Homo sapiens: one gene and its partners. The protein of the gene in region 3 purifies or fractionates together with the protein of the main gene of each other region. This does not show direct contact. Each region holds a gene or a part of one and is shown on either strand. Other genes may lie near its edges. The genes, in order: ACOT8, PRCP, OSBPL9 and GCH1.

What was found.
Region 1: the proteins of OSBPL9 (region 3) and ACOT8 purify together in Homo sapiens (co-immunoprecipitation; one large-scale study listed by IntAct). This does not show direct contact.
Region 2: the proteins of OSBPL9 (region 3) and PRCP fractionate together in Homo sapiens (co-fractionation; one large-scale study listed by BioGRID). This does not show direct contact.
Region 4: the proteins of OSBPL9 (region 3) and GCH1 purify together in Homo sapiens (affinity purification with mass spectrometry; one large-scale study listed by BioGRID and IntAct). This does not show direct contact.

The regions. Positions count from the first base shown.
Region 1 is NC_000020.11:45,843,658-45,848,948, forward strand, and holds part of ACOT8 (acyl-coenzyme A thioesterase 8), read right to left. Parts: intron 5,019-5,291; coding exon 4,793-5,018; intron 764-4,792; coding exon 606-763; intron 116-605; coding exon of another isoform or gene 81-115; exon of another isoform or gene 65-80; coding exon 1-64. UniProt on the Homo sapiens protein: Catalyzes the hydrolysis of acyl-CoAs into free fatty acids and coenzyme A (CoASH), regulating their respective intracellular levels. Displays no strong substrate specificity with respect to the carboxylic acid moiety of Acyl-CoAs.
Region 2 is NC_000011.10:82,889,769-82,895,473, forward strand, and holds part of PRCP (lysosomal Pro-X carboxypeptidase isoform 1 preproprotein), read right to left. Parts: intron 1-5,705. UniProt on the Homo sapiens protein: Cleaves C-terminal amino acids linked to proline in peptides such as angiotensin II, III and des-Arg9-bradykinin. This cleavage occurs at acidic pH, but enzymatic activity is retained with some substrates at neutral pH.
Region 3 is NC_000001.11:51,762,639-51,768,343, reverse strand, and holds part of OSBPL9 (oxysterol-binding protein-related protein 9), read right to left. Parts: intron 2,523-5,705; coding exon 2,363-2,522; intron 1-2,362. UniProt on the Homo sapiens protein: Interacts with OSBPL11 to function as lipid transfer proteins.
Region 4 is NC_000014.9:54,856,895-54,862,599, forward strand, and holds part of GCH1 (GTP cyclohydrolase 1), read right to left. Parts: intron 2,843-5,705; coding exon 2,787-2,842; intron 1-2,786. UniProt on the Homo sapiens protein: Positively regulates nitric oxide synthesis in umbilical vein endothelial cells (HUVECs). May be involved in dopamine synthesis. May modify pain sensitivity and persistence.

The DNA of each region.
Region 1 (5,291 bases), on a different chromosome or scaffold from region 3:
CCCAAGAAGGCATAGTCGGAGATATAGGCGGCCACGCAGCAGTGCATCTTCATGTCGCCCTCGCCTGCAACAGGTCCCCATCAGCCCTGGGCTCCTGGGCTTTCCAGCTCAGGACCTGCACGGAGGTAGGGGGAAAAGGGACTCCCGTGCATGGGTGTGCAGACTGGTTGCTGCACAAGAGCGCTTGGCCTACAGTGTGTGTGTGTGATAGGGGAGAAGTGAGATGGCGACTTGGGGAGGGCAGGGGTGAGCAGGGACTGAAATTCAGTCTTCACCACCCAAGTCTCCCACTCTAGGCCCCAAAAGGGGTGTCTTCTTCCAATTTGCACAAAGATACTTTATAGTTAGCAGCAAAGCTGGACAACAACCCCAGCGAGGTGCCTTTTGCCTTCCTCAGAAAGGCCTTGTGTCGGGATTATAGTCATCTCCACCTTCTCCCCATGCAAAGGGCTGAGAGGGCCCAGGTGAGAAGCTAAGCCAACTTCCCCATCATGCAGATAAGGAAACAGGCCCAGAGAAGGGAACTCATGTGCCCAAGGCCACACAGCAAATGAGTGGTAGACCCCTTGGAGAGTGGTTTCCTCCCATCCATGGGGTACTCTTACCAATATAGCCCCGGGCTCGCACCCAGAACATCTGTTTGGGCTCCATTCTCTGCAGCTGGCTCAGGGGGGATGGGTTTACTGGCTTGATCTCAATGGGGACCTCCTGAGCAGCAATTCGGTTGAGCGCCAATGGGTACCTCTTTTGGAGGTTAGGGTCCCTGAAAGTAAAGGGAAGAGGGTCGGGGTGAGACCCAGGAAGAGAGGGAGTCACATCTGCATTGCCTCTTCTGACTCCCCTCATTCTTCCACAGGGACCCCTGATATCCCCAAAGCTCCCCTCCCCTGTGGCAGGCAGGATAGTGCAGCGTTTGAATCCCTTCTTGGCCACTTACGAGCCATGTGGTCTCGTGCTAATTAGTAATCTGAGTCTATTTTCCCATCTGCAAAATGTGGATAATGATAGTAACCTACCTCATAACCAACACTGTGAAGACAAGATCATGAATATCTAACCAACACATCATAGTAATAAGGCATACCCTGTAATATGCACTGTTCTAAGCATTGTACATACAATAGTATTCCTCACAACAACCCTGTGAGATAGGTACTATTATCACCCCCATTTCATCAGTGAAATAAGCACAGAGTCCAGGTAGCTTGCTTAAAAATTGGAGAGACAGGATTTGGACTCAGGCAATCTGGGTCCACAGTATGATTATTTTCTATTTTTTTAGAGACAAGGTCGTCTTCTCACCCAGGCTGGAGTACAGTGGCGCAATCAGCTCACTGCAGTCTCCAACTCCCAGGCTCAAGCCATCCTCTTGCCTTGGCCTCCCGAGTAGCTGGGACTAGAGGTGTACGCCACTGTGCCTGGCTAACATTTTTATTATTTCTTTATTTTGAGACGGAGTCTAGCTCTGTCACCCAGGCTTGAGTGCGGTGGTGCAATCTCAGCTGACTGCAACCTCCGCCTCCCAGGTTCAAGTGATTCTCCTGCCTCAGCCTCCCGAGTAGCTGGGATTACAGGCGCCTGCCACCATGCCCAGCTAATTTTTGTATGTTTAGTAGAGATGGGGTTTCACTGTGTTGGCCAGGGTGGTCTCGAATTCCTGACCTCATGATCCGCCCGCCTCAGCCTCCCAAAATGCTGGGATTATTTTTACTTTTTTTTGTAGAGATGGGGTCTCTTTATGTTGCCCAGGCTGGTCTCAAAATCCTGGCCTTAAGTGATCCTCCTACTTCAGCCTCCCAAAGTGCTGGGATTACAGGAGTGAGCTGCTGTGCCCAGCCACTTCATTATTTTAAACACTCAAGAAACAGGCTGCCTGACTTGGCCTGAGTTACCAAACCCTACACAGTAGGGAACATTGCATCCCCCCAGGGGGAGGAGCCCATTCCAAGGAACTCCCTTCAATACAGTGACAACCACCCATAGTGCTCTGCACAGGTCCTGCCATTTTCACCCCTATCCTCTGGAGTGCTGTTGGACAGAACCTCCTATGATGATGGAATGCCTATCTGCACAGCACACTATGGTAGCCACTAGCCACATGTGACTATGGAGCACCTGAAATGTGGCTAATGCAACTGAGGAACAGAATTGTTCATTCTACTGACTTTGGTTTTTTTTTGTTTTTTTTTTTTTAAGACGGAATCTCGCTCTGTTGCCCAGTCAGGAGTGCAGTGACTCAATCTTGCTTACTGCAACCTCTGCCCCCTGGGTCCAAGCGACTCTCCTGCCTCAGCCTCCTGAGTAGCTGGGATTACAGGCACGGGCCACCACGCCTGGCTAATTTTTTTGTGTGTGTATTTTTAATAGAGATGAGGTTTCACCATGTTGGCCAGGCTGGTCTCAAACTCCTGACCTTGGGTGAGCCACCCGCCTTGGCCTCCCAAAGTACTGGGATTACAGGCATGAACCACTGCGCCCGGACCTATTTAATTTTAATTAATGTAATATAGCCACGAGTGGCTAGAGACTACCTTATTAACAGCACAGATCTAAATTCAAGGTCCTTTAACAATGTCTTCCTTTCATTTCAGCAAACATTTGTCGAACTGCAACCACACACCAGGCCCTGTGTTTTTTCTGTTAATAGTGATATAACTACAATTCACTGCCATTGTGCTAGTTAGTACTAGCACGCTAAGTGCCTTTTCTCTCTTATTTAATCCTCACAGCAGCCTTATGAGGTAGGAATATGATTAGCACCATTTTATAATGGTGAGTACTGGCTCAGAGTGGGAAAGCAACTTGCCCAAACTCACACAGCTAGTAGGGACAAAATCTAGAATTGAATCCAGGCCTTTCAGGTTCCCAAACCCACATCCATCCCGTCATACTCTGCTGCCTCCCCAGTATCTAACACGAGATAGAGACATTCTCTCCTTATGATACAGCTAAGAAGTAGGCAGGGCAGAAATGAGCATTCCCATTTTTTAGAAGAAGAAACTAGGGCCCTGGGGAGTTGGGCACTGTCCCACAGCAGGTGAGCATTCACAGAGGCACAGCCCTGGACAGAATCCATGTGTCTATCCTTTGTCTGGACCCAGAGCTCTTTCCCCTGTACCAGCATTTTTCAAACTTGATTAGGTGTGATCCAAATAAATATATTTTACCAGGTATTCAAAATATCTAACATGCTCCCTGGTGGTCTAATGGTTAGGGGAAAATACATATTTGTATTTTTGTACATATGTTTTATATACATAAAACATGTGGCCGGGCACGGTGGCTCACGCCTGTAATCCCAGCACTTTGAGAGACCAAGGCAGGTCGATCACTTGAGGTCAGGAGTTCAAGACCAGCCTGGTCAACATAGCGAAACCTGGTCTCTACTAAAAAAATACAAAAATTAGCCAGGCATGGTGGCATGTGCCTGTAATCACAGCTGCTTGGGAGGCTGAGGCACGGGAATTGCTTGAACCTGGGAGGCAGAGGTTGCAGTGAGCCGAGATCATGCCACTGCACTCCAGCCTAGGCAACAGGGCGAGACTCTGTCTCAAAACAAACAAACAAACAAAAACATGCACTAATGCAAAGGCAGTGACCAAACATAGGCCATAGCGCTGCAGCTCTCCAGAGGACACTCACTCCTGGTGTGCATTAAGTCCTAAGTTGCTGGACCAGGGGCCTGGGGGAGAGAGGGAATCACTTAGGGGGCTGGGGAGGTGGTACTTAACAAGTGGTTACGGAAGTATTTCTATATACATATATATATAAAATATATATATGGTTTTTTTTCCCAGGTATGGTGGCTCATGCCTATAATCCCAGCACTTTAGGAGGTCAAGGTGGGTGGATCACCTGAGATCAAGAGTTTGAGACCAGCCTGGATAGCATGGTGAAACGCCATCTCTACTAAAAATACAAAATTAGCTGGGCATGGTAGCAGGTGCCTGTAATCCCAGCTACTTGGGAGGCTGAGGCGGGAGGATCACTTGAGTCTGGGAGTCAGAGGCTGCAGTGAGCCGAGATGGTGTCACTGCACTCCAGCCTGGGCAACAAGAGCAAGACTCCATCTCAAAAACAAACAAACATGTATATATATAAACAACAACAAAATATATATTCTTTTTTTCTTTTTTCAGACAGAGTCTTGCTCTTGTTGCCCAGGCTGGAGCACAGTAACACGATCTCGGCTCACTGCAGCCTCCACCTCCCAGGCTCAAGTGATCCCCCCGCCTCAGCCTCCCAAGTAGCTGGGACTACAGACACATGCCCCGACACCCGGCTAATTTTTGTATTTTTTATAGAGACAGGGTTTCACCATGTTGCCCAGGCTGGTCTTGAACTCCTGGGCTCAGGTGATCCTCCCACTTGGGCTTCCCAAAGTGTTATTATAGGTATGAGCCCCCACACCCAGCCCCAGCCTTATTTTTAAATTAGAGATGGAGTCTTGCTATGTTGGCGAGGCTAGTATCCAACTCCTGGTCTCAAGCAATCCTCCTGCCTTGGCTTCCCAAAGTGCTGGGATTATAGGTATGCGCCACTGCACCCGGCCAAGCCCTTCATTTTATACCATGACCCAGTACAGACACACACCAGAAACACACATGACTAAACCTCAAGTTTCACAAAAGGATTCTTGCCCTTAATACATACATATTATTCACTCCAGTATCTTCTTTTCTAATCTGTATTTTAAAAATGCTGGTCAAGACCCACTAAAGGATTCTATGACCCACAAACAGATAGCAGCTGCATTTTGAAAAGTCTGCCATGGAGCCTCCAGGTCTCTCACCTTAAATACTGGTCAATGAGGGTCTCACAGTCAAGCAGCTCTTCTGGTGGTGGCACAGTGGGCATGGAGAACTGGTGCTGCATGGGGCTGGGCTGGGCCTGCTGGAAGGAGGCCTGGCAGATGAAGATGGGCTTCCCATGTTGCACGGCCTTCACAGAGCGCACCGAGAAGCTCGACCCTGTTCGTGTCCGCTCCACTTGGTACAGTACTGGCAGCTTCGGGTCCCCTGCAGTGGGCACAAGGACACAGTGGGTCCACAGGCCCTGTCATCATCACAACGCCTGACAGGCACTCTACTACTCATCTTCCATTCCATTTCATCTCAGTGACTACTAACTGAGGTCTGCTAAGGTCCAGGCCCAGGGATACAGAGACCACCAGGCCCTGTCATCAGGCTTCTCCCTGTGCAGGTGGAGCTTTTCTCTAACAGCACAAACAGCAGAGACATTGACAGATTCCTTGCATTCAAATCCTGGCTCCACCACTCACCAGCCGTGTG
Region 2 (5,705 bases), on a different chromosome or scaffold from region 3:
GCCATAGATTGAAAGGCCTTAAATGCTACAGGATTTTGTTCTTAATAAAGCAAACAATAAAGAGTCGCAGTTTCTGAAAAGAACAGTGATTCAACTGGAGGAGAGGTGATTTATGTGACAACCCATGGGAGCTGTACCGGAGGGGGAAACTGCAGGAAGCTAGGAAGACCAACTGGTTTACTCTTCTAGTAGTCAGGGGAGGCGGTAATAGGGGCTGCAAAAAGGGGCTGTAATCACTCCCTTGCATGCAATTCTCACTACCCAGGCCTCTCTCACCTTTTTGTTCTCACTTGGCAAAAGTGCAATTCACCAACTCCACAGCCATACCCAAGAAACTGAATGTAGCTAGAGAAACATACAGCCACATCAAATGGCCTTACTAACTTACATAACAGTTACATCAAATGGCCTTACAAAGTTAGAAAAGCTGCCCTGCAATCAAACCATATGCCCCTAGTGCATTTACTTTCCTTCTCTGCTAGAGGAGCATTTCTGTTCTCTCCCTTTCTCACTCTCAGCTGATGACCTTCCATCTTATTTTGCTGGGAAAAGGGAAGCGTTCTGAGAAACAGCACACAAGTTCTCACTACCATACCACCTTCTTACCTTCATCTGTGCCTATATGATGTGCCTAACCCAGTTTGACTATGGTCAAACTGTTCATGCTCTTGTTTTTTCATTAGATCCCATTTCCTCTTGCCTAAGATATCCCACTACCAATTCTATTTCTTTCTTGTTCCGTCACTTTCTCACTCTCTCGGCTCATTTCCCTTAGCATACATTCGATTATTTCTCCCATCTTAAAAATGGGAACCCTCTCCCCCTCCATCTACCACACCATATTTCTGCTCCCCTTCACAGCAAAATTCCCCAAAAGATTACCACACTCGTGGTCTCAATTCAGCTTCTCCCATTCTCTCTTGCATCCACTCCAATGAGGCTTTCGCCTCCACTCACCCTCTGAGGAAATTGCTGTCAAGGTCACCATAACCTCCACATTGCTAAATCAAGTGGCCAATTCCCAGTCATTTATTTAGGCACTACTGGTTACCTTCTTACGGAAATGCTTTTTTCATTAAGTAATCAGGGTATCACACCCTCCTGGTTTTCCTCCTCCAACTGTTCCTTCTCAGTCTCCTTAACTGGTTCCCCATTTCCCTGACTTCTAAATATGCAGTGTTGAGAAGATCATCTTTAAAAGAAAAGATCATCTTCACTAACTCCTTTGTTGCTCTCTTCCAATCTCATGGTTTTACATACCATCTGTATACTAACAGCTTCAAATTTGTATTACTTGCCCCACCTTTCTTCTAAATTCTTGACACAATACCATTTCTGAAACCAAGTTCCTCTTCTCCTTCCTTCCCCAAACCTACTCCTTCTGCAGCTTTCCCCTTCTTGGTAAATGACAACTCCTACCTTCTAACTGCTCAGGCCAAAAACCTTGGAGTCATCTTCAATTCTTTATCTCACAACCTACATCTAATTCATCAACTATACCTCTCAGCTACACCTTCAAAAATATCCAGAATCTGAGCACTTCTCAGCCTCCACCACTACCACACTAATCCAAGCCACCATCGTCTCTAATCTGAAATTTTGCAACAACCTGGTCTTTCTGTTTACCCCCTTTCCCCTACATAGTCTATTCTCAACACAATAGCCAAAGTGTTTCTTAAGATTTATTAATCAGAGTCATTCTTCTACCCCTAAAGCTCCAAAGGCTTCTCATCTCATTCTGATTTACGGCCAAATTCCTTACAATGGCCCAGATGTCCCCGCATTATCTGGCTCCCTGAACCTCCTTTCTGTCCTCCTCTAGTACTCTCTCCCTGGGGCATGTCCCTCCAGACATACCATCCTCCCTACAGTTCCTCCCACTGAGCACACACCTACCTCAGGGTTTTTGCACTTGACCTTCCCTGCCTAGACATTCCCTGTGCCTAGAATGTTTTTCCCCATGCCTAGAATGCTCTTTCCCCAGTGCCTCGAATATAGTAGGCACCTAATAAAAAATTAGGTAAATGAATTTAGACAGACATTGAACATTCATTTTCCATTTTGCTTTTTTCATTTATTATTAACGCATAAACATTTTATCACATTGTCAGAATACTTTAAGACCATAATTTTTTGGGCTAACAATATTCCATTTTATAGACATACCACAAGTTATTTACAATTTGGGACTGAAAAACCAGGATATTTACAAATGGGATATTTTGGATGTTTCTTCCTTTGATATTTGTGAACTTCACTTCACTTTTAGAAGTGAATCTACTAGTGAGAATATGTACCTCACAGGATTGTTGTAAAGCTGAATATGAACTAATAAGTGGACACAGAGACATCAGTTTTGTTACTACTGCTTAGATTACAGAGACATCATGATGTCAATGAAAGATCATAGATCTTGAAAGAAACAGATAAAAAACATGACTCACAATATTGTCCTTTAATAGCTTAAGACACTTAACCTCTATGAGTTTCAATTAAACCATCTATTTCAAAAAGCGATTATATTAATAATAATTAAAAAGAGATGTAAAAGAGTTTAGCATAATATTGAGCTCAGAGTAGATAATCAATAAATGTTCATTCATTCACTTCTCATAAACAATACCTAGGGTTTTTAAAATTGTGAACCAGAAAGAAAAAAATATTTTTATAAATTATCCCATTACATACATATTGTTAAATAGATAATAAAAATTTTCAGTACAGAATTATTCTTTTTAATTAACAATTACTCAACACTTACCAAAGCACACTTAAGATTACAAAAATCTATATATCAATTTTGTTTCTTTTATTATAATAAAGCTAGGCAAAACAATTATTTTTAATTACTGAATGATGGTATCAATAAATAAGTTCCTTTTTATCATGTGCTTTAATGTACACACACAACAGGTCAGTAAACTATTATAATGATGACAAGTTAAGCAAGAAAACATTTTAAAAATTCGCCTCACTTCAGGGCTATTTCTTGAAGCAATCTGTGTGTTGGAGTCAGATGAATGCCAAGACATTACAAAATTTTCAGTGTTTTCCATGTTGTTTCGATATAAGTTTGAGTATATGCAGTTGGAATGGTCAACAAGTACAATTTGAACTCCTTCAGGGTATAGTCATCTATGCCTGGCCAGGACCTAGCCCAGTGCCTGACATACAAAAGACACCAGATCAGCACTGAGTAGGTAGGTAGGTGGGTGGGTAAGTGACTGATTGAGTATGGTAGTCATTAGTGCTGTCTGTCTAGGCACTACAAAGCCAATACTTTTTGTCTCCCTACCCTGTGATTGGGTACAGTCATTTAACCAGTTCTAGCCAAGGAATTGTGAGAAGAAGTGACATAAGTAATTTCCATTTTGGAGCATTCATATGAGATCTTCCATGTTCTTTTTCCACTGCTAAGTGTTCATGAAAGCATATGCTAAAAAGGAAACCCCGATCAGCCACTTAGTCTCTGAGTGAAAGCAGGAGCACAGCCCCCTGCTCATTCAATTGGAAGTTTATGACAGTAAGGGTCATACATTTTGTTAGGTTAAGTGACCGAAATTCATAAATTTTACTATAGCAGCAAAACCTAACTTATCCTGGATAATACAAGCAAGCTAATGGCATTCATTTCAGCACTAGAAATTAATCAGAGTTTAATTTCAGAAAAACAAAATGGTACAGATAAGTAGTATAGCTCAGTATAATAATTTAACCTCTCTATATGATAGTTCTCTTGCTCGCCGAGTTTGATGGCTCCTGCCTGTAATCCTAGCACTTTGGGAGACCAAGGTAAGAGAATTGCTTGAGGACAAGAGTTCAAGACCAGCCTGGGCAACATAACGAGATCCCATCTCTACAAAAAGATTAAAAAATTAGCCAGGCATTGTGGTGTACACCTGTAGTCCCAGCTACCCGGGATGCTGAGGTGGGAGGATCACTTGAGCCCATAGGTTCAAGGCTCTAGTGAGCTATGATCACATGGCTTCACTCCAGCCTGAGTGACAGAGCAAGATCCTGTCTAAAAATAAACAAACAAAAAGGATAGTTCTCTTGCCTACAAAATGGAATAATAGCATCTACCTCATAGAACAGTAATAGGGATTAATTAAGTGAATGTCTATTAAGTACTTAGGATAATATTTACGGTATTTGAAGCTTTCAATAAATGGTAGTAAATTACTATCATTAATAATGCATTAGACACATTTACACTACATATGTAATTTTACTTTCATCTCTTACTCCTTATTCATTTTAATTTATGGTCAATTTTTTCAATTCATAATATCTTTATTAAGAAGTACCATATCCTGTCAGAACCATATAAAAAAATAAAAAGAAGTACCATCCAAGGCACTAGAAATGAAGACAAATAAGATCTACCATCAAGGTATTCTCCTTACCTATGATTCTCCTTTCTTCTGCAATAGACCCACAACCAAGCAAACTTTAAAATCATAAACACAATGTTTTATTATATTATAATATAAATCAACTATGCAATATTATAAATATTGTACCAATTGAAGAGGTGATTACTTTTTAATTTAAAAACACTTTATATGTTATGGGTCTGTGTCTTATTCAAAGTCAAGATAGTAAAGTTGTTTAGGTCCAATTCATCAAAGGCAATTAATGTTATGGCAAAAAACAAAACTTGTACCCACATTCCCACTGTTCCTAACGCAGTGCCCTATAAACAGGAGGCACTCAGTGAACAAAATTATAGGTAAATCAGAGATCAGCAGATCCAATCCATTTATCTTACAAATTAGTACAATGAGATCTAGAGGGTTAGGCAACTTGCCCAAAAGTATGATGTGATTTAGTGGCAGGGCTGATCCTAGAACCCAAACTTTGAAAATGTTTTAAAAGTCTAAATTCTCTAAAGCACAAAGTTCCTGCAGTATGCTGACAGAGGAATATAAACAAGTCAGTGAAAAACCTAAAGTTAATTTTTATTGAAATTAGATTTTAGCATTAGCTAGTAAGAAATTTAAAACTCAGCTATCAGAAAGACAGTGTTAGATTTACTATTGTTATCAAGAGAAGAAGGTACTTCCAAAAACCTAAAAGGGTAAATTCATTACCATATTTCCCCCCAACACTTTATCAACACTTAAAATAGCATAGAAAGAAAAATAGAAATAGTTTCATATGCTTCTTTTTATGTACAGAATCTTGTGTGAAAAGAATGATTTTAAGCAAGAAAAAAGGTTAATTCCTAGGCCACAAATCTATTAAAGTATTGATTATTTTAATCCTATTGATTTTAAAAAAGTGAAGGGGTTAATTAAAGCCATGTACATTAGGAAACTGCAAGATAAAAATAATGTTTATCATTTATTGTTTACTAACTGTTATGCACTGTGCTAAATATGCACTTTACACATACCACCTCTTTTTACAACAAACTTATGGTATAGGTAATATAATTATCTCCATTTTGCTGATTATGAAAATAGGGGCTGCCTCTGAGTAACTTACTCAGGTAGTGGCAGAAACAGAACTTGCTCTCAAACCTGTTTGCCTCTAAATGGTATGCTTTAGGTTTTGTTGTAGTTGTTTTTTGTTTTTTGTAGAGACAGGGTCTCACTATGTTGCCCAACCTGGTCTCTAGCTCCTGCCCTCAAGTGATCCTCCTAGCCTCTCAAAATGCTAGGATTACAGGTGTGAGCCACCACACCCAGCACTAAAAGCTG
Region 3 (5,705 bases):
TATTCAGGAGGCTGAGGCAGGAGAATTGCTTGAACCCAGGAGGCCGAGATTGCACCATTGCACTCCAGCCTGGGCAACAAGAGCAAAACTCCGTCTCAAAAAAGGCTGGGCGCGGTGGCTCATGCCTGTAATCCCAGCACTTTGGGAGGCCGAGGCGGGCTGATCATGAGGTCAGGAGATCGAGACCATCCTGGCTAACACGGTGAAACCCCGTCTCTACTAAAAATACAAAAAACTAGCCAGGCGTGGTGGCGGGCGCCTGTAGTCCCAGCTACTCGGGAGGCTGAGGCAGGAAAATGGCGTGAACCCGGGAGGCGGAGCTTGCAGTGAGCCAAGATGGCGCCACTGCACTCCAGCCTGGGCGACAAAGACTGTGTCTCAAAAAAAAAAAAAAAAAAAAAAAAAAAGACGGTCTTTAATTCTCTTTTAAATAAAATAATGACTGAACCCTTCAAAAATTAATAATAACCTTTCATTTTCGAATTTTCTTCCAAATGCTTATTTTCTTTTAACCCCATTATTATAAAAACTTTTTTTCCAAAATTAAATTTCTATTGGCAAACTGCTAACAATGGTTTCTCAATAGTTTATGTTTTAACATTCAAAATGAAAAAAAGAAACCAATATGCTAAACTAAGCCCTTTCTGCTACACTGGCCTTCTTTAGTTGTAGATTTAAACCTCCCTTCCACGTCTTAACTATATATATTCACCTAGACCACATAGGACTGGCTGAAGGTAATTGGCTTGCAAATTTACATTTAATTATTTCCAAATTTGTACTGTGTTAAAAAGCAAAAACCCTAGCTATAGTAACAGTATAGTAACAGTCCCCTGAGAAAGCAGAATTAGAAGTAATTCCCAACAAAAACTAAGCTATTAATACATCTACAACAAACACAAGTAAAATGAAAGTAAATCAGTAATTCTACTTCTTTTTTTTTTTTTTTTAAGACAGAGTCTCACTCTTGTCACCCAGGCTGGAGTACAGCAGCCCAATCTCGGCTCACTGCAACCTACACCTCCTGTGTTCAAGAGATTCTCCCATCTTAGCCTCCCGAGTAGCTAGGACGACAGGCGTGTGCCACCACACTCAGCTAATTTTTGTATTTTTTTAGAGACAGGGTTTTACCATGTTGCCCAAGCTGGTCTCAAACTCCTGGGCTCAACTGATCCTCCCACCTCAGCCTCCCAGATTGCTGAGATTAGGGGCATAAGCCACCACACCTGGCTCCCTAAACTGTTTTTGTTGTTGTTGTTTGTTTGGAAACAGAGTCTTGCTCTGTTGCCCAGGCTAGAGTGCAGTGGTGTGATCTCAGCTCACTGCAACCTCCGCCTCCCAGGTTCAAGTGATTCTCCTGCCTCAGCCTCCTGAGTAGCTGGAATTTATAGGCATGTACCACCATGCCTGGCTAATTTTTTTTTTTTTTTGGTATTTTTAGTAGAGATGGTTTCACCATGTTGGTCAGGCTGGTCTCGAACTCCTGACCTCATGATCTGCCAGCCTCAGCCTCCCAAAGTGCTGGGATTACAGGCGTGAGCCACCACACTTGGCCTCCCTAAACGTTTTTAAATAAAATTAGTGCCTTAAAGCCAGTGCAGAGAGACAGATTTGAGGTGGACTTCCATTTCCCTGTAAGTAGACTTGCAATAAAAAGCTTTTCTTTCCTCAAAAACCTGGGACTTAGTAATGGCTTCTAGCACATTGGGCAGCAAGCCCCTTTTGCTCCATAACACTGTAGGAAATAAATTTCTGTTGTTTATAAGCTACCTAGATTACTGTATTTTGTTATGGCAGCTTAAAGGGACTAAGATACCATACCACGTATTTCATTAGATTATAAATGTCTGCCTATTCCCCCAAAAGTTCCCTGTGGGCAGGGCCTGGATCTTTGTAACCTTGATATCAACCTAGCACAGTGCCTGGCTGATAGGTGTTGAATATTTCCACTCTAATTAAAAAAAGAAAAAAGTAATAGAAACCTCTTATTTGTATAATGCTTCATAGCTTATTCACTCTCATTGGACCCTCTCCTAATGTTGGTACTGTAGAAACGGCCAGGGTTCAACTAATAACGCTGGCACATTACTATAGGTGATGCTATTTATTCCACTTGGATTAACTTAGGACTAAAATCAAAACTCTCACAGAACTGGCTTTGCTCAATAAGCCAACCAAAAACAAGTTGTCCATACAACTATTATACATCAATAAAAAAACTTCTATTAAAAAGGTTGCCCTTTTAATTTTCCCAAATAATAACTGATGAGGCAAGTCTGTCATTAACACTAGTCTCAAAATCAAATTAGATTTTTAAAAATCAGGAGAATCATTTAAATACATATTCTGTTCATCTACTCACTCTATTAAGCGCTTTGGGGATGAGCCACTTTGATGGAATTCATCAGCATCATAAAATTCATCTTCACTGCTGGAGTAAGAGAACTCTGGGACTGTATTTGGAGACAAGTTCACGTGGCTTGGAGAAGTGAGACTGCTACTCGGTGGTGAATGGCCACTGCCTAGGAAGTTAAAAGGGTTTTAGAGAAAAATATTGGTGAAAGAGAAGAAACTAGGGAGATGGAGTCAAAGCAGACTTTTCTAAAATCAAAAAAGAGTTTGGTTAAGTTTGTAAAAGTCGCTACAGTATTTATAAAGAAAATCAACATTTAAACTCCACACAGAAAATGGCAAATCATGATATAAAATGAGGACACAGCCTTTTAAATAAATGAAACAAAAAGCTATGTCCTCATTCTATAATTAAAGATTATCATTAATACTAGGAAGGGGGCCCTTTTGATTATATGAGTTGTGGAGTTGCAAGTCCAACAACAGATATGATTACAATGGGATGCCGGGACTCTTATTTTACACTGCAGATCCAGATACCTAAAAATGCAGCAGTGAGCCACTGGGAATGCAAAATGAAAAGAATATTAAGACCACATAAACATTAAAATATTGCAGGATATCACATTCCTATCATTCAATATTTTTTGGCAATCACATGGAAAATACACACACCATCCAAATTCCTCTCCTCTTTTCCACCTAAGTCAGGGGCTCAGAGGTGGAGATAAAAATAGAGGACTACGATGAGAAGAATGCAGAAAATGAAAAGATTCAGAAGAACATTTTTCTATTCCTAAATAGTCTAACTAAAGAAATGGAAATTAATGAAGACCCAGACAAAGAAGCCTGCCATCTAATCTCTGAGATGATCATCTGGTACCTTATCTACTAGTAAAGCAAGAACAAAAAAGTATCAAACCAATCGACAAATGGAGTATTAAGATCAATTTAACTTACTGAGCATTTAAGGGCTGTCAGTCAGGCAATTTATACTAATCTACAGATGTCTGGTGAAGACTAAAGTTTATTAAGACACTGATGGCAATCTGAAAGCCAGGGCCACAGTTCTGGAAGAAATTGAAGACAGCAATAAAAATGAATCCAGGCTAGGCACAATGGCTCATGCCTGTAATTCCAGCACTTTGGGAGGACCAGTTGGGAGGACTGCTTGAGGCCAGGAGTTCAAGACCAGCCTGTGCAACAAAGTGAGAGCCCCATCTCTTAAAAAAATAGATAAATAAATTAGCTGGGCATGGTGGCATGTGCCTGTGGTCTCAGCTACACGACAGGCTGGGGCAGGATCACTTAATCTGAGGAGGTCGAGGCTGCAGTGAGTTGTGTTTGTGCCATTGCATTACAGCCTGGGTAAACAGAGTGAGACCTTGTCTCAAAAAAAAAAAAAAAAGAATCCAGAGTCACTTACGGATTTTTTGCCCATTCCTATATGTATGGTTCAATAGTTGTGAAAAAAAGCACATCAGTTTGCCACATTTAGTCATCATATTCACAAAGGTATTTTAAAAAGATAACACAAAAAGTTTAACCCCTAAAAGGTAATGCTTATTTTGGAAATTCCAAAGGTAGCTCACCTTATTAGTAAATAACTTCATATTCTTTTTATTACCCAACAGAAAAAGTAAGAGAGAAAAGCAGCTTTTTCTTATTGGAATAAAAAAAAAATTGATCAAGAATTGCAAATGATTAAGTAGCATGCAAATATTCCAGGTGATCACACAAGTGAAACTGTATCTAAGAAGAAAAGTTTGAGTGGGAACTGCAAACAAAAGATCTGAGATTTACTTAGGAGAGCAAACATTTTATCTTATTCCTTTATTTCTTTTTTGTATTAACAAGAGAAGTAAGGGAAAGAAAAGTGGAGAAAATGAAGTTAGGATGAAAAATCAAATAAGATATAAATCACAGGAATTTAATTTTAAATTTTTCTTTAAATCTACTCTAAAGTGTTAGATTTTTGAAATACCTTCAACTGAAATAGTTTTCAGAAGATTATCTTCTGGAAGTAATTTTTACAAAAATTAATATACATAAGAAGAGCTTCTCACTTTCTCAAAGTCTGTTGCTAGTTTTACGTATTTCCAAACAGAAAAATTTTGGAATTTTGGTTGTTTCAAAATTCCAACATAAAAATACGAACAACAACAAACAGGTACTATTTTTTAAATGAAGAAGAGGTGACACAGCTCAGGAAATACAGAAGTCAGCCAAAATATTTCAATTTCATTATTCAAATTGCTTATCAGCCTTTTCCCAAGAGCTTCAAGTAAGAGAGCTATTTTTTTTCTTTCAAAATTCAAAGGCAACTGCCCATGCTGTTAAATAGTAAAGATCAAAGTAATAGCATCAGTACTTTTACTAATTCGAATTTTTTAAATCACAGGGTAATTATTCATCATTACACAGGAAAAATCCTACCCGGGAAAAAAATCTGAGGATGAACAAAAGGGGCTGATCTCCCACTTCTTCAAGAGTGGTTTTGGTTTTGGTTTCCAGGTTTAACAGTGTGAAAAGTGCTAGATGCTTCCTTGAGTTTGGTTCTACAAGTTATTCAACATACATTTAATTAATTTTAAAACAAGATAAATCTAGTATCTAACACTGATAGTATCCCTGTAAAACAGAGAAAAAATAAAGACCCTAAGCCTAAACGAATTAAGAAAATGCAGGCTGGGCGCGGTGGCTCACACCTGTAATCCCAGCACTTTGGGAGGTGGAGGTGGACAGATCACCTGAGGTCAGAAGCTCGAGACCAGCCTGGCCAACATAGTGAAATGCCGTCTCTACTAAAAATACAAAAATTTGTGGGGCGTGGTGGCGCACATCTTTAATCCCAGCTACTCAGGAGGCTGAGGCAGGAGAATCACCTCAACCCAGGAAGTGGAGGGTGCAGTGAGTCGAGACAGTGCCACTGGACTCCAGCCTGGGCAACAGAGTGAGACTCCATCTCAAAAACAAAAAACAAAACGTTTAAACAAACAAAAAGAAAATGCAAATTAAAATGAAGTATCTTTTTTCTAACTATAAAACTGGCAAAAAGGTGAAAGACTGATAAATGTTTTCTAAAAAAATATACATATGCCAAAGGTGCTGTACAAGGATATCACTGAAGTATTGCTTCCATCAGTGGAAAAAACAAGCAATACCTGCCCAGGCAGCTGTAAAAAGAATGCTGTAGACCTAATTTTACAAACATGGAAAGTGCTCTAAGTGTTCTTTGTTAAAGGAAAAACGCAAGTCACAGAAACACATAACCTAAGTTAGGTTTAAACAAAAACAATAAAAATACACGACATAAGTGTATATGCACATACATGTATGCAAATTACTGGGGG
Region 4 (5,705 bases), on a different chromosome or scaffold from region 3:
TTACTTAAGGCTTTACTGCTTGATATTTGACTTCACTGGCACTGAAAGGTCATTCATTTAAAGGCAAGCATATAACAAACTTCATATATAAGATTAAAATGAGCAGTGAAGTTTTGCTAAGACATTCAGCTTTTATTCCTCTTCATTCTCTAAATATTCTTACTTCTTATAAGGAATAAGTAGTTGGATAAAATCTTAGTCTTCTTTTCTATTTAATAGACTCTTTATTCAAATTTTTTGCAAAATATTTGAAAGCAACATACACTTGGTTCTTTGGCTTCATGTTCCATTTTATTCTTAAATTTTAATCCTATTAGTCTAAGGACAAATCCCCATGCTAATAATCAACTCCTTTGTATTGTTTCATAAAAGCTTAATTATTTGAGATCTTTTCCTTTCACTTGGAAAGGAAATAACTAAGATTATTTCCTTCTACCACCAGGTTGCCATTTATTGTATGATCTCACTGAATCACTCAAGAGTCCATTTCCCATAAAGTGTTAATCATGATCAACAGTTGGTTTTTCAGAGAAGGCTGTTACATTAAGACCAAGGCCTAATGTGATCTGCCAAGCTTTTTTACACTATGAAACTATCCATTACACCTTTCACATATGGACAGTCTGTTATAGGCATCAGCAGTGCTGGAATTTCTATATGGGCAAGGTATAGGGTTAGCAATCTTGCTGACAGGGAGGCCCAGGGGACTGGGCCTACAGCTATGTTTGCACAGTAAGCATGCTGATTTTACTTAGACTGTATATTATAAAACCATAAGAATAACCAATTTTAGTAAAGATACTTTTACTCACAGTTGACATGAAATTGGTTTAATACATCATTAGTTGAGGGTAAGTTACTGGGAAGGGAGTCGTTAATAAAAATTATAGTAAGATTAATTACTCCCAATCACTACCAACACACTTTTTCTCAGCAACTTTTCAGCACTGCCACCAGGGATGGATCACACGCAAGCAGCCAGAATGTTTCTGGATTTGTGCTAAGAGCCTTATTCCAGTGAAGCAATTACAGCTATGATATAATATTCTTTCATGGTGCCAAGCAGCCCTATCTAATAGCAAAATAGCTGAGCAGGAATGAGGTCAGAAACTGGGGAAGTTAAATTTGTCTCTTCTACCCACTTTCTTATTGATCCCCAGAGGAAATGAATGAGAAAGTGGAAGTGAAAACAAAGTAACAGGAACAACTTTAGAGGGCAGTTGTCAGATTGCTGGAGTAGTTTTTTTTTTACAGATTCCAACACAGAATTGAGAAATATCAGGACCACCATTTCACAACTGTGTTAAATCCCAGGGCCTGCATAAAGAAACAGGAACACATCAGAGCCACAGCACAGTCAACTGGTCACAGAGACTCATTTATTCCTCTTCTTTTATTTTTATTTTTTTGAGATAGGGTCTTACTCCATCGCCCAGGCTGGAGTGCAATGGCACAATCTCGGCTCACTGCAAGCTCTGCCTCCCGGGTTCAAGTAATTCTCCTGCCTCAGCCTCCTGATTAGCTGGGATTACAGGTGTGCGCCACCACGCCCAGCTAATCTTTGTATTTTTAGTAGAGATGGGGTTTCACCATGTTGGTGAGGCTGGTCTCAAACTCCTGACCTCAAGTGATCCGCCCGCCTCAGCCTCCCAAAGTGCTGGGATTACAAGTGTGAAAGACGGCACCCGGCCGAGACTCATTTATTTCAATTATGATATGGTCACTATAACCTCAAGTTATTCAAACTTAGCTTGATTATTTTTGAAAAAAAAAAAGAGTAGGAACACTTTACCCGACCCCTTCATCTTGTTCTTAACTTTCTCTCTCTCTCCACACACACACACACCTCCCAGTATTTCCTCCATCACTCAAAATTCACTAACTTTATACGAAGAAACAACAAGGATATTTAAGGGCAATAAAATATTGGTGGCTGGGGCCTACCAGAGATATCTGAACACAAACCCCCATGTTGACTTCCAGTTAAACACAGATGAACGTGTATGTACATCACCTCTCCTAAAACCCAAATAAAAAAGGCAGTAAGGGAATTTTTTAAGGCATGAACCCACAGGATAAACAACAGAAAAGAAGATTGTAGCAGGAAAGAGAAATGAGAGCGAGGAGCGTGAACACTGTATCAGAATAAAGCTGTGCAAAGCCAAGGCAGGCAGTCTTGTGTTTGCAGAAACAAAGAACCTAGACATGAACGGACTGGCCTGCAGGACCCCTGAGATATGCCTGGAGGCATCCAGTGCAGAGCAAGGCAGGGTTGAGGCTGGGGATCCCACAGGGAAGTTTCATTACAAGTCTGAAAGCAGTGTTGTATGAAAGCAAAGAAGGTGAGCACTCCCCTTGACAAGGATAGAAGAGTCCTCAGGCCTGACAACAAGTTCGACAGCAGAGCACTGCAGCTAGACCCCTGCCCAGCTTCTTCCCCAACCCCTCACTGTTAGCTAAACCCCCCTTAAAGGATGGGGCTGGACTGAAGGTAAGCTCAGGACCTCTCCAGTCAGAGAAGGCTCTGCAGAGAAAGAGGTGGGCTGAGACTTCCAGGATGTATGTATCTATGGAAGAAAGGGTGGGAAGTGGAAGAGGAAGCAGGCAGTAGGGGACGAGAAGGAAGGGGCATCTGTGTTTCAGACCCTCCAAGTCTTTAAGTTGCAATATGACTTCCAAGTTAGATCCATACAGGTAAAGAGAGAAAGCCTGATGAGATAGATTCTCAGCAGATGAGGGCAGGTCCTATAAACCTGTATTCTTGTTCACTGCACAGTCACACTTACCTCGCAAGTTTGCTGAGGCCAAGGACTTGCTTGTTAGGAAGATAACCAATATGGACCTTCAGAGAAGAGACGGAAATCATTAGCTGAGTGAAAATACAGTGCCTTCTTTGTGACAAAATAAGGAAATATAGAAAGAATATAGTACACTTTTATGTAATTTATCACGACAATGTATTACCTTGAAAACATCTGGAACTGTTAAGACTTAGAAAATGAAACATTTATATATGTATTTTTAAAATTACATAAATGCAGTAAAAGCAAAATATATAAGTATGAGTCTATTAATCAAATAACAAACTTGTACAGTTGTCCGTTGGTAAATGCGGGAGATTGCTTCCAGGACCCCTGTGTATACCCAAATCCTGCATACTCAAGTCCCGCAGTCGGCCCTGCAGAACCTGCATATATGAAAAGTTGCCCCTCCATCTATACAGGTTTTGTATCCTGCAAATACTGTAGAATTTTTGATCAGTGTTTGCTTGAAAAAGAGCCATGTCTAAGTGGACCCATGCAGTTCAAATTCATGTTGTTCAAGAGTCAATTGCATGGCCCTGACACTTACCTGTGAAGTTGAACTCTTGACACAAATCTGAAAGTTTCTTCTTTATGGAGGAGAAACATTCTCAAGGAAAGGCAAATGATCTCATAGCAACACTAAAATGTATACAGGAAAGCCTCCTTTAAATGGCAAAAACTGTAAGCATAAGTATTGCCATTCCACACATCACAGCAGCCTTAAGATCCCACCTCACAGCCTTAAGATCCCACCGCAAAGCCCTGCAGCACAGAAGGTCTCCACACCCTTTTGTGCTTGGCTTCCTGGTTTCTAAGCTGCTAGAGAGTGCACCATCTTCCTTTTTTTTTTTTTTTTTTTTGAGATGGAGTCTCACTCTGTCGCCCAGGCTGGAGTACAGTGGCCCAGTCTTGGCTCACTGCAAGCTCCGCCTCCAAGGTTCAAGCAATTCCCCTGCCTTAGCCTCCTGAGTAGCCGGGACTACAGGCGCCTGCCACCACACCCAGCTAATTTTTGTATTTTTAGTAGAGATGGTGTTTCACCGTGTTAGCCAGGATGGTTTCGATCTCCTGACCTTGTGATCTGCCCGCCTCGGCCTCCCAAAGAGTTGGGATTACAGGCGTGAGCCACCACGCCCGGCCCCATCTTCCTAACTGGAGAAAAAGGGCACTGCTACCACCATGGCTTGGCAAGAACCTGCACCCTAAGAACTAAGTTTTAAAGGACCCAATATACAGCCAGGCCATTTCTGTTATCTTAAATGGCACCAATTAATATCAAATATAAAAGTTACTCTTTTGGGGCCAAATACTACATACGAAAAACATTAGTTCTCTGAAAAGATTAATAGAGTAAATGGTCACTTGTAGGCAATTAATTAACCGAATATAAAATTAGAGACTCAACGGCATCATGGTTTGCTAACACTGTTTTCATTGTTCACTTACTATTTACATAATTGATCTAGTAGTACTTAGTGATTTTTTCCCCCATCCATTGGCACTATGCTTTAGGAATTTGAGAAGTCCACCTCATTGCCTTCCTGGTTGGCAGGAGGAAAAAGTAAAATAGCACCTGAACATTGAGGATTTCAAAGAAAAATTAGAGAGTTAAAACTTTCCCATGAACCAAGGTCTTCTATGCTGTCTGAAATTTTTACATTTCCATGCAGACACGGAATTTGTTCATTGTTTATACTATTTTTGGTCTTAAGATCCTAGGTAATTTAAATGTCCATTTCACAAAATCACTAGATAGGCCAGGAGTGGTGGCTCACACCTGTAATTCCAACATTTTGGGTGGATTGCCTGAGGTCAGGAGTTCAAGACCAGCCTGGCCAACATGGTGAGACCCCATCTCTACTAAAAATACAAAAATTAGCCAGGCGTGGTGGCGGGTGCCTGTAATCCCAGCTATTCGAGAGGCTGAAGCAGAAGAATTGCTTGAACCTGGGAGGCGGAGGTTGCAGTGAGCCGAGATCGCACCACTGCACTCCAGCCTAGGCAACAAGAGCGAAACTGTCTCAAAAAAAAAAAAAAAATCACTAAATAATATATTTTTAAAACAAAGGTAGCAAAAACACAAACACTGAGGAAGTAATAGCAGAAAGTAACAGGATAAAATGGTGACAGGCTGAGTACAGAATCAGTGCCTTGGATCTGGCTGCAGCCAAGCCACTAACTCTCTCTATCCTCTTGAACAAGTCACAGGCTTTCTGTGCCTAATTTGCTCACCAATAGATTCCCTTTCAAAGATTCCTTCATTATCAATTGCAGGATTTCCAGATACGATATGGCTTCTGATGTGATGTATCTGGGTTTTCTGATTGCTTTCTCTTCTTTTCTTTTTAGAGACAAGGTCTTGTTCTGTCACCCAGGTTGGGGTACAGTGGCATGATCATAGTTCACTGTAACCTGAAACTCCTGAGCTCAAGCAATCTTCCTGCCTCAGACTCCCAAAAAGTAGCTAGGACTACAGGTATGCACCCACCATGCCCAATTAATTTTAAAAAAAAATTTATTTTGTGGTAGAGACAGTCTCACTTGCTGGTCTTGAACTATTGACCTGAAGCTATCCTCCCACCTTGACTTCCCAAGTCGCTGGGATTACAGGCATGAGCCACCTCACTCGGCCCTGATGTGATATAATATGAAGTCTTCAGCACCCTTATGAAGCACTACTCTTTTTTTTTTTTTTTTTTTTTTTGGACACGGATTCACTCTCTTGCCAGGCTGGAGTGCAGTGGTGTGATCTCGGCTCACTGCAGCCTCGACCTCCTGGGTTCAAGCGATTCTCCAACCTCACCCTCCCGAGTAGCTGAGACCACAGGTGCATGCCACCATGCTAGCTAATTTTTGCCTGTTTTTTTGTTTGTCTGTTTGGTTGATTGGTTTTCGTTTTTT